Homo sapiens: one gene and its partner. The protein of the gene in region 1 interacts with the protein of each later gene in a pairwise test. Each region holds a gene or a part of one and is shown in the gene's direction. Other genes may lie near its edges.

What was found.
Region 2: the proteins of CREB3L1 (region 1) and SEMA4G interact in binary tests that used the Homo sapiens proteins (3 or more experiments, as listed by UniProt).

What each region holds. Positions count from the first base shown.
Region 1 is NC_000011.10:46,308,519-46,312,254, forward strand, and holds part of CREB3L1 (cyclic AMP-responsive element-binding protein 3-like protein 1), read left to right. Parts: intron 1-1,470; coding exon 1,471-1,549; intron 1,550-2,513; coding exon 2,514-2,671; intron 2,672-3,736.
Region 2 is NC_000010.11:100,972,504-100,976,003, forward strand, and holds part of SEMA4G (semaphorin-4G isoform 1 precursor), read left to right. Parts: intron 1-25; 5' UTR 26-409; coding exon 410-533; intron 534-625; coding exon 626-774; intron 775-1,043; coding exon 1,044-1,106; intron 1,107-2,481; exon of another isoform or gene 2,482-2,581; intron 2,582-3,500. UniProt on the Homo sapiens protein: Cell surface receptor for PLXNB2. May play a role in axon guidance.

The sequences.
Region 1 (3,736 bases):
TGGGAATGTGAACCCCAGACCCCTGGCTCCTAGCCGAGGTCCTGCCTGAGTCCCAACTCGGTGCCTCCTTTGTGTTCTGGGCATGTTGCACATCCTCCTTCTCTGTAAAAGGGGCTCATGAACCCCCTAAGGTGCTTCTAGCCCTGGGATTCCACAGGATGAGCAGCATCTTAAAATCCCTAGATGGGAGCGTGGCTGGCCCTGCCCCCTGCTGGCCACACGGCTCACTTGCTCTAACTGTACGTGGCTGAAGGCAAGAAAGGTCAGCCCCTCCCTGCCCCACCACAGACCCGTGGGATCAAGGGTCGGCGGCAAATATGCAGGATCTTTTGAGACCATCTCCAAGACTGGCTCTGAGACTCCTCAGGCCTTGCCAAAGCAGGAAGGGATGGAGTGACAGCAGCAGCAGCCAGGGAAGAGGAGACTTCAGAAAGGGAAACTGAGGCTCAAGGGGTTAAGTAATTTGCCCAAAATCATGCAGTTAGAAGCAACTGACATGCCTTCCAAATTCGGCCTGCCAGACCCTGAAGCCCACGCGAGTGAGGTCATAACCCCTAGTGGAAGGCACAGGAGCTGGCATTGTCAACAGTGAGCTCTCTGCACCGCAGTCCCCTCTCTGTCACTTGAGGGCTGAGCTGGGATGTAGACCAAGGAATCTCCAAGGTCCCTGCCAACTTGAACCTTCTGGGATTCTTACTCATCAGCCTACATTCTGGATTCTGCGTCCCACCCACAATATCATGATCTCTCTGGGGCTGCAGCCCAGGGCCTGCAATCCAGCCCCCAACAACGCCTTCCTCAGACAGAGCACCACTTACTTGCATGTTGGTAGTCATGTGTACAAAGCCATGCATGCTCTTGAAGTCCTTTCTGGAACAACAAGTCAGAATAGAAATAAAGAGAAATGCATGTTTGTTAAAAATGTCCATCTGATTCTATCAAGCCCTTACTTCAACCCATTAGGAGCTCTCATTGCCTCCAACTTCTTTGTCTAGATTCTACTTCTATTTATACCCCGGGACTCATTTCAGACTTTGACTTCTCAGGGAGCATCCTCGGAGCCCCCAGCCAATTAATGCCTCCTTCTGTACTACTGCTACCAGCCATTGAACAGCTACACTGTTCCAGACATTACCTCTTGTTTTATTCTCATGGCAACCCACATACCAAAGCCTGTGTGGCCTTCACAGTTGGTGTGGAAGGTGGCCCCACACTCAGAGGCTCACCTTCTCTGAGCTTAAGGTCTGAGCTACACTGCTTGGCCAGCAATCCTTTCTCTTAGGTGTGACTTGGCTTCTTTAAGCTCAAGAGCTTGCCTCTGTTCCCTTGCAGCTGTGCCCAGAACTCCAAGCCCAGCCACTTCCCCAACTGTGCAGGGCAGGCAACCAGCTTTAGGGAGGAGGTGGGTAGATGGCATGGTGGGGACAGACCCAGGGGCAGCTAATGGAGCTGGGCTTGTCTGTTCCTCAGGCCCCGGGAGAGATGACTCAGCTGCCAGTGATCAAAGCAGAGCCTCTGGAGGTGAACCAGTTCCTCAAAGTGACACCGGGTAGGTGTGTCCAGGGGAAGGGCTCTTTTCCCCTCCAGTCATAGGCAGATAGCATCCCCACTTCCTTGGTTCAGCCCATCCCTATCTCTTGACAACCTTCCCCCACCCAGAATATCCTCTCCACCCTGCCCTACCCACTGTCCCTCCATCCATGCCCACTCTTCGTCTAGTCCTCTTCGTTTTTGTTTTTTGTTTGTTTGTTTGTTTGTTTGTTTTTTGAGATGGAGTCTCACTCTGTCACCCAGGCTGGAGTACCATGGCACGATCTCAGCTCACTGCAACCTCCCCATCCCAGGTTCAAGCAATTCTCCTGTCTCAGCCTCCTAAGTACCTGGGATTACAGGTGCCCACCACCACGCCTGGCTAATTTTTGTATTTTTTAGTAGAGACGGGGTTTGGCCATATTGGTCAGGCTGGTCTTGAACTCCTGACTCAGGGGATCCACCTGTCTCAGCCTCCCAAAGTGCTGTGATTACAGGGGTGAGCCACTGCACCCAGCCTTCGTCCAGTCCTCTTCTTGCCCAATCTACTGCTGCCATCGCTCCTGCTTGCCCAGCCTGACCCTATGAGAGAGAGGCCCCAGTCACCTTCTGGGGTTGCTGAGCTAGAGCTTAGTGATCTTCTGGAGTTGCTGAGCTTAAGGCCCTGAACCCTGTGAAGTCAGAGGTCACAGAGGACCTCCCACGAATTCAGCTCCTATGATGTCTATGCCAAGGGCGAGCTTGTAAAGGAGCTGGGCCTCTGTGGTGTCAGATGAGGCAGCACCCAGGAATTGGCTACCCAGATGTCAACTGTCTTTCTGACCCTGCAGAGGGGCTTCTGATGTCATAGCTGAGACCAAGCGCCTGGCAGTCCGTGTCCCACAATGTCAGGGCTGGTGCAAGCTCATGCTCAGCTGAACTCATGATGTCCAAGTGGAGCTGATGTGCAACGTTGCTAACTCGGTTTCCCCTGCTCTCCCCAGAGGACCTGGTGCAGATGCCTCCGACGCCCCCCAGCAGCCATGGCAGTGACAGCGACGGCTCCCAGAGTCCCCGCTCTCTGCCCCCCTCCAGCCCTGTCAGGCCCATGGCGCGCTCCTCCACGGCCATCTCCACCTCCCCACTCCTCACTGCCCCTCACGTAAGGAGCTGGGGGTGGGCTGATCCCAGAAATGAGGAATTGAATACATCCACCTGAGCACACTGGCCAGTCAGGAGGGTTTGGGGAGCCCCGAGACTGATCCCCACCCTCATCAGAATTCAGAGGGATGCTTACCTGGCAGATGGGAGTTCTAATCCTTTTATTTTTGAGTCTTGCTCTGTTGCCCAGGCTGGAGTGCAGTGGCTCAATCTCGGCTCACTGAAACATCTGCCTCCCAGGTTCAAGCAATTCTCCTGTCTCAGCCTCCCAAGTAGCTGGAATTACAGGCACTTGCCACCGTGTCTGGCTTTTTTTTGTTTGTTTTTTTTTTTTGAGATGGAGTCTCGCTCTGTCGCCTGGAGTGCAGTGGCACGATCTCGGCTCACTGCAACCTCCACCTCCAGGGTTCAAGTGATTCTCCTGCCTCAGCCTCCCGAGTAGCTGGTATTACAGGTGCACACCACCACCCAGCTAATTTATGTACTTTTAGTAGAGACAGCATTTCACCATGTTGGCCAAGCTGGTCTCAATCTCTTGACCTCTTGATCTGCCCACTTCAGCCTCCCAAAGGGCTGGGATTACAGGCGTGAGCCACCGCATCTGGTCAGGAATTCAAATCCTTTCGCCCTGCCTCATGGTGAACAGGAGACTATTGCAGAGCCAGGACTAGAACTTGACATTCCTGACCTCCAGGGGATGACCCAGGCTGCCTCCAAGGAGCGCTGTGTGAGGGGAAGTGCCCAGATGGTCCAGAATCCCCAGGAAACATGGAGCTAGGCCCTGAGCCCTGGGATGGGTGTGGAGTCTCCCAAGCCAAGATTGTAGGGAGGGGTCTGAGGGAGATGCTGTTTGGGGCACCCTGGACAAGTAAGCTTTGAGGGTGCAGTCTCAGGGATGGGATCCAGGAAGCCCTCCCGAACAATGCACTAAGAGCCTAACACCTGAGCTCTCAGCATGGCCCTGGCACCTGACACATGTTACTGAATTTCACCCAGATCCACTCCCTTTCCAGATGAGGAAACTGAGGCATAGAGCATTGTGTGCCTTGCCCAGGTCATATAGATA
Region 2 (3,500 bases), on another chromosome or scaffold:
TTTTTTTTCCCCGTTTTTTCTTCAGAAAACGGACCTCAGAAAACCAGGACTAGCTCTACTGTCGGGGGCAGGGTGACCCCATCAGTAACCTACAACCCCTCTAGAACTTCACAACTCCCTCTCACCATGGAGTTTGCATTTGATGCAGAAAGGCATGTGATCCCTCCCTCCTTCTGACCTCTTAGCTGGGGATTCCATGGCCACACAACCCTGTGACTCCATGTCCCCCCGATTCCAGGACCCCCCATGGCCCCATGATTCCTTGACTCCTATGACCTTATGACCCCTGACCTTCCAAGTGACTTCCTTGGACTTTGACCCCTGTGACTGTGCTTCCCATTCCCCGCCCCCACAACCTGTGACTCTGGCTCCCTTTGGGGGTCTTGTTAGTCTGGGCCTCCCCAGGAAGATGTGGGGGAGGCTCTGGCCCCTCCTCCTCAGCATCCTCACAGCAACTGCAGTCCCAGGACCCTCACTGCGGAGACCGTCTAGAGAACTAGATGCCACCCCTCGGATGACCATACCCTATGAAGGTTAGACCCTCAACCTCAAAAGGCAGCAGAAGCCAGGGCTGGGGGTGGGGAGGCACCCCAGAACTAGGGCTCACTGTTCCTGCTCTCCCCAGAGCTCTCTGGGACCCGGCACTTCAAGGGCCAAGCCCAGAACTACTCAACACTGCTGCTGGAGGAGGCCTCAGCAAGGCTGCTGGTGGGAGCCCGAGGTGCCCTGTTCTCTCTCAGTGCCAACGACATAGGAGATGGGGCTCACAAAGAGGTCAGGCCCTGGAACCTGGACCACCCAGAGGGTCTCTATGCTTATCCAGCTCCCTGGGACCTCAACTTCCTTAAAACCCTGCCAGCCTTCCATAGCCCCCTGGTCAGACAGCACTGCCCTTCCCAGCCCAGGTGTTCCTTGCATTCAGTGTTCCTCCTGAAATTGATCCCCACCCCAATTTCCCCAACTCTGTGGGGTCCTATTGCCTGGTCCTATGAGTAATAGGTATTGGGGTCAGTGCATCAGCCTATTCCCTTTGCCTCCACTAGATCCACTGGGAAGCCTCCCCAGAGATGCAAAGCAAATGTCATCAAAAAGGGAAAAACAACCAGGTATGTGGTCTGCCCTGTCCCCAGCTCCTTTCCTCCCCTTCTTCCTCAATCAGGGATGCCAGGATTGTTGGGGACACAGATGGGTAGGTACAGACCTGCCAGTCAATCTCAGCAACCACAGTAAACATTGTAAGTATTGCCAGAGTGGCAAGCCATGGGCACAGCATTTTTTTTTTTTTCTTTTTTTGAGGTCGGATCTCACTCTGTCATCCAGGTTGGAGTACAGTGACATGATCATAGCTCCCTGTGGCCTTAAACTCCTGGGCTCAGGGGATCCTTCCACTTCAGCCTCCTGAGTAGCTAGGACCACGGGCACATGCCACGCCCAGCTAAGTGTTTTATTTTTTGTAGAAACAGGGTCTTGCTATGTTGCCCAGGCTGGTCTTGAACTCCTGGCCTCAAGCAGTCCCCCTACCTTAGCCTCCCAAAGTGCTGGGATTACAGATGTAAGCCATTGCCCCCGGCATCTGGGCACAGTACTTCTAATTCAACCATCTGGTGGCCTACTAGTTTGTCCCGCAGTGGCATCTTCATCTCCTCTGGGATCCCAAATAATCAAAATGGCAATAAGTAGGCTGAACGCGGTGGCTCACATCTGTAATCCCAACACTTTGGGAGGCTGAGGGTAGGAGGACAACTTGAGTCCAGGAGTTCAAGATCAGCCTTGGCAACACAGCGAGATCTGTCTACAAAAAAAATACAAAAATTAGCCAAGTATGCTGGCGTGCACCTGTAGTCCCAGCTACTTGGGAAGCTGAGTGGGAGTATCACTTGGGCCTGGGAGGTTGAGGCTGCGTGAGCTATAATTAAGCCACACATTCCAGCCTGGATGACAGAGCAAAACCCTGTCTCAAAAAAACAAACCAACAAAAAACAGTAAGTAACCTCTACAGATGCTTACTTACGATGGGTTACTTACCAATAAAACCATCATAATAAATTGAACCATTGTTAAGTCAGCAACTATCTACAGCAAGTGATGATTTAGCTATTATCTCAGTTAATTCTAAAATAACCCTATGAAATAGTATTATCCTGCATTTTGCAGATGAGAAAAATGAGTCTTTGGTCAAGGAATAGGTCAAATACCCAGTATTCCATGGACAGGCATTAATGAAGCATCAGCCCTTTCCAGCTAAAGAATAGGGTGTCTCCAGGGGTCCCATGTCTGGCTAGGTAATGGCTCCATCTGGAGAGCTTTTACAAAATAAACGGCCCTGGGCTGGGCATGGTGGGTCACACTTGTAATCTCAACACTTTGGGAGGCCAAGGCAGGAGGATCACTTGAGCCCAGGAGTTCGAGGCCAGCCTGGACAATATAATGAGACTCTATCTCTAATAAAAAATAATTAAAAAAAAATTCCCAAGATCCACTGGGCCAAGGTGGGCCAGGGGTGGTGTTGGGACAGCTCCGTTTAAAAAGGCATCTCCAAGAGCTTCCATCAAAGGCTGCCTCTTGGTGCAGCACAGGTAGAAAATGGGGCTGGGGAGGCAGATGGAACCAGGTCATGGAAGGCCACAGATGCCCAGCTGGGAGTTTGGGTTTTATTCTGTGACAGTGAACACCCTCAGAATTTGATACTTTAGAGGCTCTAACTTTAATGTATCACCCAGGTATATTATAAATGCAGATGCTAAACTTAGTAGGTCTGGGGAAGGGCCCAAGAGTCTGCAATTCTAACAAGCTCCCAAGTGAAGTTGATGCTGCTGGTCCCCAGACCACACTTTGGATAGCAAGGCTTTATAGAACAGTTCCCAAAGCATGTTCTGAGGAACATTAATTTTCAAAGGAGGGGTTTAAATGTCAAATGAGTTTGGGAAACACTACATGCCCAGTCCCACAATGCACAGCAACATCCTTCAGGCTCTAGGAAGTAAGCCCAGTAAAGATAGGTTTCACCTGTGGTTTCCAAAGTTATTTGACCAGAGAATTCCTCCCTACCCCCCTTTAAAAAATGTAAACATCCGCTGGGCACGGTGGCTCAGGCCTGTAATCCCAGCACCTTGGGAGGCCGAGGCGGGTGGATCATGAGGTCAAGAGATCGAGACCAGCCTGGCCAACATGGTGAAACCCTGTGTCTACTAAAAATACAAAAATTAGCCCGGCATGGTGATGCACATCCATGCGAGTAGTAGTCCCAGTCACATCACCATGGTGTTGAGAGTAGTAGTCCCAGCTACTCGGGAGGCTGAGGCAGGAGAATCTCTTGAACCCGGGAGGCGGAGGTTGCAGTGAGCTGAGATCATGCACTGCACTCCAACCTAGCGGCAGAGCAAGACTCCGTCTCAAAAAAAATAAAATTAAAAAAATAAATAAACATCTTGGGGAAACATCACTTTAGGAATATTTATCTGGCCCCAGGCACTGGATGGATGAAAATAGGGTGAGTCTGG